Homo sapiens: one gene and its partner. The protein of the gene in region 1 purifies or fractionates together with the protein of each later gene. This does not show direct contact. Each region holds a gene or a part of one and is shown in the gene's direction. Other genes may lie near its edges.

Evidence for each region. Proteins that work in one complex are often made in the same cells at the same time.
Region 2: the proteins of SLC6A7 (region 1) and PODXL2 purify together in Homo sapiens (affinity purification with mass spectrometry; one large-scale study listed by BioGRID and IntAct). This does not show direct contact.

Annotation. Positions count from the first base shown.
Region 1 is NC_000005.10:150,188,603-150,192,861, forward strand, and holds the start of SLC6A7 (sodium-dependent proline transporter), read left to right. Parts: upstream 1-1,459; 5' UTR 1,460-1,482; coding exon of another isoform or gene 1,483-1,725; coding exon 1,726-1,758; intron 1,759-4,259. UniProt on the Homo sapiens protein: Brain specific sodium (and chloride)-dependent proline transporter. Terminates the action of proline by its high affinity sodium-dependent reuptake into presynaptic terminals.
Region 2 is NC_000003.12:127,635,685-127,639,184, forward strand, and holds part of PODXL2 (podocalyxin-like protein 2 precursor), read left to right. Parts: intron 1-3,500. UniProt on the Homo sapiens protein: Acts as a ligand for vascular selectins. Mediates rapid rolling of leukocytes over vascular surfaces through high affinity divalent cation-dependent interactions with E-, P- and L-selectins.

The DNA of each region.
Region 1 (4,259 bases):
CACAGCTTTCCTGGCTTCATCCCCAACGCCCAGTGCATGACTTCACTCCTCTGGGACAGTTTCCACAGGTGTAAAATGAGATGCACAAACATGTCTTCCCAGACAGTTGGAAAGAATTAAAAATTAGATGTTGGATGCAAAAATCCTTCATAATGCACACAGTAGGGCTCCATAAATGCTCCTTCTCTTCACACTCACAGCCACTCTTGGCCCCATATGGGTCAGCAGGCAGGGGGCAGAGGAGACACCTTCCTCCTGGGTCTGGAGAGCCCCTGGTTTGCCCTTTGTGGCCAGGCTCAAAGGGGAGAGAAGTTTGACAGGACCTGGGCAGGGGAAGGGGTGGACTGGAGCCTGGCCAGGCCTTTACCCAAGTCCATGCTTTGACTTAAACCCCTCCAACCTTTTTTCAAGCTCCAGAGGTGGGAGAGAGCAGAACCTTATTCTCATCTCTCCCCAAAGGCCTCCCACCGTGTCAACTGATAGTGAGCCAAACAGATGTATGGTTAATGTCTAAACTGGGACACTTGCGAGGGTGAAAAGGACACAATTTGTAATGTATATACTGATCCGCTAGTGTCTATCAGTCAGTCCCAGCAAACCAACGTGTGCCATTGCTCCAGCTCATCATTTCCCATCCTAGCCACAGGCTCACTGGACCCTCAGAACATTCTGAGGCAACAATGCATGGGCGGCTCGTGGCCCATTTTACAGATATGAAATTAGAACTTTCCAGAAGCCATACTGCTGCTGGACAGGAAACCAGTTACTAATCATCTAAGTCACAGATCACAGTGACACTGTGGCACTTGCCTGTCCCTTCTGCTCACCCAAACCTCCCCATTTTGCTTTCATCTTAAGGAAAGGAGGAGAGTTGAAGACTCTACTAGCCTAAAGGTCCATGAAGCCTGACTCTGTCCCTGGTGTCACTCATTAGCCCCGTGACTTTGAGTAAGTAACTTAACTTCCCTGTCCCTCAGCTTCCTCATCTGTAGAATAGGAGTAACGACACCTGTCTCTCCAGGTTGAGAAAATAGGACACCTAGTTCAGGACCTGGCACATTTTAGGTGCTCAATAAATACTGATAGATTGAATAATTGGACTAATGGTGGCGTGGGCAACCCACAGTCAGTGAATAAATGTTAACTGAGCACCTACTATGTGTCAGGCTCTTTGTGCTAGATGTTTTCTATGCTCCATCTTCCTGAATTGCTCACACTCCTGTAAGAGAGGAGAGATTCTTATCCCCTAAGGTCGCACAGCAAAGACGACGCAGGGGGGTGGGCTGTTAGTGTTCCTTGCCCAACTGTGGAAAGGGAGTCCCAGAGAGGGCAGGTCGCTTGCCCAAGGTCACGCAGAAAGCCGAGGGTTTCCGTCGCGAACCCCCCTCCCCACTCGCTCAGGGCTCTCCAATCCGCAGCTCTGCGTGCGGGGGCGCGCGCATCCCCCCGCCGTCCGTCCGTCAGCTGTCTGTCTGGGTGTCTATGCGGGCGCAGCAGTGCACCCTTCCCCAGCCTCGGGCGCTGCGCAGGGACAGACAAGGCATTCGCAGCGCCCTGCCCGCGCTCCACGCCCGCAGCCGCCAGACGGCAGCGCCTGCGTCCGTGCCCGCCCCAGCCGGTGCGCGGGAGCCGCGGGGGCAAAGGCGCAGTGGCCAGCGGACCATCTCTCGTGCCCTCGCTCTCTGCGCTCCGGGGCAGCTGAGCCCCGGCCACCCGCTCTCCAAGATGAAGAAGCTCCAGGGAGCTCACCTCCGCAAGGTAGGGCACGAGGGCGGGGGCGCTGGGGGTGCACCTGGAGGAGGGTTGGAGAGACCCGCCCCCAACGAGGCCCCTGGGGAAGGTCTGAGGATGCACCCAGACCAGCTTCGGGCTCTGGGGAAGGCCCGACTCAGCTGGATAACAGGGAGGGTCAGGGTCACGGTCTGCGCCCCCACCTCTGCCCCTGCCATCTGGGGTTCGGGATGTAGTATGAGGGGAGTCCTGGTTCACTGGGCCAGGCCTATGAACAGGTGTCTGCAGTCCCCGGAGGCGCGGGGTAGGGGCGGCCGGGGCCAGGCACCCACCTCTTCCCCAATTCCACCCTGCTGCTCCCCGCCAGGAGCTGATTGCCGGGTGTGGGGGGTATTGGAATACCTGAGCGTTGAGCTGGACTCATCTGAGGGGTGGGGAGTGGGAGGCGGTCATCCATACTGAAGCCGGCTCCCTGAGCCTGCGGGAAGACTCTCCTCTTTCCTGCCTGCTCCCTCCCCGCCCCCTTAGCTTGCCTGCTGAGACCCCAGGCTGCCCCTCAGCAGGGCTGAAGGGAGGCAAAGACAGGGAGGGGGCTATCGGAGGCAGGAGGATATGATCAATGAAGATGGAAGCTGGTATGGGAGAGTGGCTGTGGGCCCAGACCTCAGGCTCTCCCTACCTTGCCTTGTGGGATTGGACCTCTCAGCCAAGCTGTCAGGATATGGGGAGGGGGAATACTGGGGGACGTTTTCTGGCTTGTACCAGTCCTAACTAAGGAGTCAGATCTCCTGAATACTATTTCTGCCGCTGCCACTTGCCTGGTGACTTTGGACAAGTTCATTCTCTAACCTGAACCTCCTCTGGCTAAGCCCTAGCCTGGAGGCACCAAAACAGGCCCCACTGGGTGTGTGAGGTGTGGGGAAGAATGCTAAAGGGCTGGTAGATGTGAGAAGACTGTTCTCAGGGGCTGGTGTTATCAACCTCCCTACATACACACACATTCACACTCACACTCACTCACACACACACTCATTCATTCAAGTTCTCTGCTCTGGGGCAGCTGGGCTTGGAACCACTGTGGTGTGTCTTTTTTCTTTTTCTTGTTTTTTTTTTTTGAGACGGAGTCTCGCTCTGTCACCCAGGTTGGAGTGCAGTGGTGTGATCTCGGCTCACTGCAAGCTCTGCCTCCCGGGTTCACGCCATTCTCCTGCCTCAGCCTCCCGAGTAGCTGGGACTATAGGCGCCCGCCACCACGCCTGGCTAATGTTTTGTATTTTTAGTAGAGACGGGGTTTCACCGTGTTAGCCAGGATGGTCTTGATCTTCTGACCTCGTGATCCGCCCGCCTCGGCCTCCCAAAGTGCTGGGATTACAGGTGTGAGTCACTGCGCCCAGCTGGTATGTCTTTTTTATTCACTGACATGAGTGACTTCTTGAGACCATTTGTGAGTCTCTTGGGTCCTGTTTCCATTCTTTTCCACTCTCCTTCTCTTCCCTCTCTGCCCTCCCTCCCCACAAGAGGCCCTGTCCCTCTTGCTGGGTGCTGGGCTGGGGGGTTAGCAAGCTTTATCTCATTTAATCCTTTAACACTTCCAGGGGCTAGGTCTTAGTAGCCCCACTTTATAAATAAGGCAACTGAGGCACAGAGGGGTGAGACTCACTGCTTACCTGCTGGCAGGCTAGGCAACCTAGAGCCAACAGGGCAGAGGGTTGGTTCTAGGTTGCTACCTCCTCTCAGGGTCCTTTCCCTTTTCTCAAGCAGAATTGGGCGGGAATGAGAAAATGCCAGATTTCCGCAAAGGAGCAGCATTGCTCAGAGATGAACACTGGACTTAGAGTCAGGGGATCTAGGTCCAAGTCTTGCTGTGCCTTTAACTTGCTGTTTGACCTTGGGCTCATCCCTTCTTCCTGAAACTTGGTTTCCTAATCTGCACAATGATGAAGCTGGACCCCAGATTCCTATTGTCTCTCTCTGTCCTGAAGAGTCTTGGCTTGGGCAGTCTTGAGTCTCCCAGCCCCTGCTGTGAGTCCCTAAAGGCGAGCATGCAGGTCTGACAAACTCAGCTGTGTGTTCCTGCATGCCCCTGGGGTAGGGAGTGGGAGATTCAGGAGTGGGAGGCTTACACCCAGGAAGAAGTATGAAGCAACTCATTCAGCTTCCAGCCCTGCCCCAGCTATTTGATTGCTTTCTTCCATCTCCCAACCAGCCCCATCCTCACTGTGCCAGCCTCCTGGGATTCACCCCATGGTGGGGTTGGGAACTCCAGTTGGGCTCCTGATTGGCTCAGCTTTGGAGGACCCTATCTCCTGCCCCTGGAGCAGAAGCAGGCTTCCCTCTGATTGGGGGAGGAGGGGGACGAGCTGGCAGCATCCTGCTCTTGGAACTCTAGTCACCATGGAAACAGAGAACCGGGACCGCTCCATGAGCATGGAAAGGGCAGCTTCTCTGGAGGGATCAGAGGATCCTCATTACTGGGACCTCCTGCTAACTGGCCTGAATGGTGCTGGGATGGGCGGGGGGTGTCTCAG
Region 2 (3,500 bases), on another chromosome or scaffold:
GGATTCAGAACTCTAGGGTGGGCTTAACAGTCTCTGTTTTAACAAGCCCTCATGGTGATTCCATGCTGGTTCAAGTTTGAAAGCACTGGATTAAAACGGTAGCCATTTATTTAGCTCATGATTCTGTAGTTTGGCAATTTAGGCTGCAGTCAGCTGGGTGGTTCTGGTCTCAGCTGAACTCCTTCAAGTTTGTCATCAGCTGTTTATCACCTTTGCTGGTCTTGTCTGGCTCTCTCACTTTGGGACTTCAGCTAGGACACTGAGCTGATCTGGCTCTCTTCTGCATGGGCTCCTGTTTTCCTGCAGGCTAGCCTTGAGCAGAATCCTGAGAGAATGGAAGCGTGCAAGGTATCTTGATGCCTAGCCTTGGAAATGGCACATCATCACTTCTGCATTGTCTTGTGTAGCAACTCACAAAGGTAGCTCAGATTCAAGGAGTGGAGAATTAGATTTCATCTCTTGATGGGAGGAGCTACAAAGTCTCATTGCAAAGATGTGTGTTATTAATTGGGAGTCATTGGATAACCCCTCTCAGGAAGAACCTTAAGAAGGTACTGTTTTGGGGTAGGACAGGGCACTCTGTTTCTTTCCCATCTACCTAGTAGGGGATAGATACTGCTTTCTTCTATAATATTCGGGCTAGGAAAAAATCCAAGAGTAGCTTAGGGTCCCCCCGTGATGTGAAGGGGAATTAGAGTGGAAGAGGTCATGGGAAAGTCTTGAGCTAGAGAGAGTACAAGTCCTTAATTCATCCTCTCCCAGGAACAAAGGGGAACTTCAAGGGGAGTGGACCCCAAATTGATTGTCTTGGCTTTCTCTGCCTTTTAAATACCTTTGGCTCAAAGAAACCACAAAATATGAGATGGCTGTTTCTCTCTTTGAGTCAGGGATTCAGACACAGGCTCTGGGAACATGACTTCAGCTTCGTGGAGCCAGGCCCTGCCTGGAAGCAGAATCTTTGTCCGTGGACATGGTGCCTAGGACAGCAGAAGACATTCCGGATGGGGTGTGATAGCTTCCTGGTTTGGACTTGGCAGAAGGCAATCCCCTGTGAGCAGTCCTCAGGAGCACTGGCAACACAGCAGTGCCATTGGCTCCCACCTGCCCAGGGTCACAGCTTGCCCACCCTTTAGGTATTTTTTTATTTTTATTTTTTTGAGACAGAGTCTCACTCTGTCGCCCAGGCTGGAGTGCAATGGCACCATCTTGGTTCACTGCAATCTCTGCCTCCCGGGTTCAAGCAATTCTCCTGCCTTAGCCTACCAAGTAGCTGGAGACTACATGCGTGTGCCACCATGCCCAGCTAGTTTTTGTGTTTTAGGAGAGACTAGTTTTGCCACATTGGCCAGGCCTGTCTCGACCTCTTGACCTCAAGTGATCCGCCCGCCTCGGCCTCCCAAAGTGCTGGGATTTACAGGTGTGAGCCACCACACCCAGCCCCATCCTCTAGTTATGATGATACTTTCTAAAGCTGAGAGTTGGGCCTGTGAATTATCTTATTGAGAGACAGAGCTTCACGGGATCTTAGAGGTTGGCACAGACGTTTACTAGCCCTGGTCAGATGCTAAGGCTCTGATGCCTCCTTAGCCCCGGCGTTGGCTTTGAGGCCATGTAGAATCACTCTGATATTCTTATTCACATCAACCTTTTGTTTTAATGTATTTGAAGATACCATGGTCTCTTTTAAATATTTTTTTCCCCGGGCCATGAACTTCACAGGTCTCTGTTTTTTATATAGGATAATAACACAATATTTGTAGAATAGTTTGGTTTGTAAAGCTCTTTGTAGAGCAGCTTTCACACATGGCTCACCAATTACCTCATTTGGTGCCCCTCACACTGGAGGCATGGTAGGAATTGGTGTCCTTATTACACAGAGGAGGAGAGCAAGGCTGGTGGTGGTGAAGTCACTCAGCCAGAGAAGCCAGAGTGTAACCTATTTCCTGGTACCAGGCTTTCTCTCCTGTTATATAGAACATCTTCCTGTCTCTGACCTCAGGGCGTCTCTCTTACCCTGGAGTCTCTACTTCCCATCCCCCATCCACACAACCCAGAATACACCCCTGTGGCTGGATGTGGCATTATTGGCTGTGAGTTGTCTGGCTGCTGCACAGTGTGCACAGACTCCCTCATACGGAGACTCACAGGACAGTCTGAAATGCTCATTTTTTTCAGTGGCCAGTCACAGTATTGGCACGTATCAAGCTTAGGGCCTGCTCAGCAAAGCACATGGCACCAATAATATTAGCCCTATTTTTATTATAAGCATCACTAAAAATTGCCATGTACTGTAGTCAAGTCAGGTCACAGTACACATCTGGTGTAGAGCAAGAGGAAGACTGTGAAATTCCCTCTTCCCTAGATCCTTAAGTGTTAGTCTTGGAAAAGAATTCAGAGGTCATTTCATTTAGCTTCCTTGTCTATCTGGTGAGGAGACTGAGACCCAGAGGTCTTGAGCAGCTTTCCAGGAGCCTCACAGCAAGTTAGTAATTTGTGTGGTTAGGTCATTAAGTTAGAGGTTAAGTTGTGAAACTGGCAAATAGGGCTATATTCCTGTCCTTAAAGAATGAGAGTGAAAGAAGAGGAAAAAGGCCTCCTTTAATTTGTTTTCCTGTCCATTTATTTGCTTGTTTTGGTAAATTAGGAGAGAGAGAGAATCCAAGATTCTAAACAAATATGTCAAATTACCAGCACTGGGTTGAGTTTGAACTGTGACCTCACGTGGTTTTTTAAAAGACTACGTTCAGAGGCTGGGCTCAGTGGCGCACGCCTGTAATGCCAGCACTTTGGGAGGCCTAGGAGGGCAGATCACTTGAGGTCACGAGTTCAAAACCAGCCTGACCAACATGGCGAAACCCTGTCTGTACTAAAAATACAAAAATTAGCCAGGCGTGGTGGTGGGCACCTGTAATGCCAGCTACTTGGGGGGCTGAGGCAGGAGAATCACTTGAACCTGGGAGGCGGAGATTGCAGTGAGCCAAGATTGCACCACTGTACTCCAGCCTGGGCGACAGAGCAAGACTCCATCTCAAAAAAAATAAAAAATAAAAAAACTAAAGACTATGTTCAGGATACTGTATTGCTGAAATACAAATGATATTCATAATGCAGTTTTGGAGAAATTTCAGCCAAGGATGGAAGCCTGGGGAACACTGTGTTCGTCCAATCATACTGCTAGGTCCTTAAAAGCATGGGCCCTGTCTTCACTTCAGTTTGTAGCTCCAACACCCAGTACAATTGCCAACAGAGAGAGGGTACTCAGGAGGCATTTTCTGAGTGACCACATGCGCAGTGGAACACTGACTCAGTGATTCCTCTCTCTCCCCTGCCTGTCTCCATCTGTCTCCCCTTGCCCCTGCCATAGGGAAGTCTAAGCAATTTGGCCTTTTTGAAATGAAAATAGTGTCTCAGAATCCCCGCAAAGCCTCTGGGTTTTCAGGAGTGTCCACTGAAGTCCCCCCTTCCCCAGGACCTTTGTCATTTGAGACATGCTCTAACCT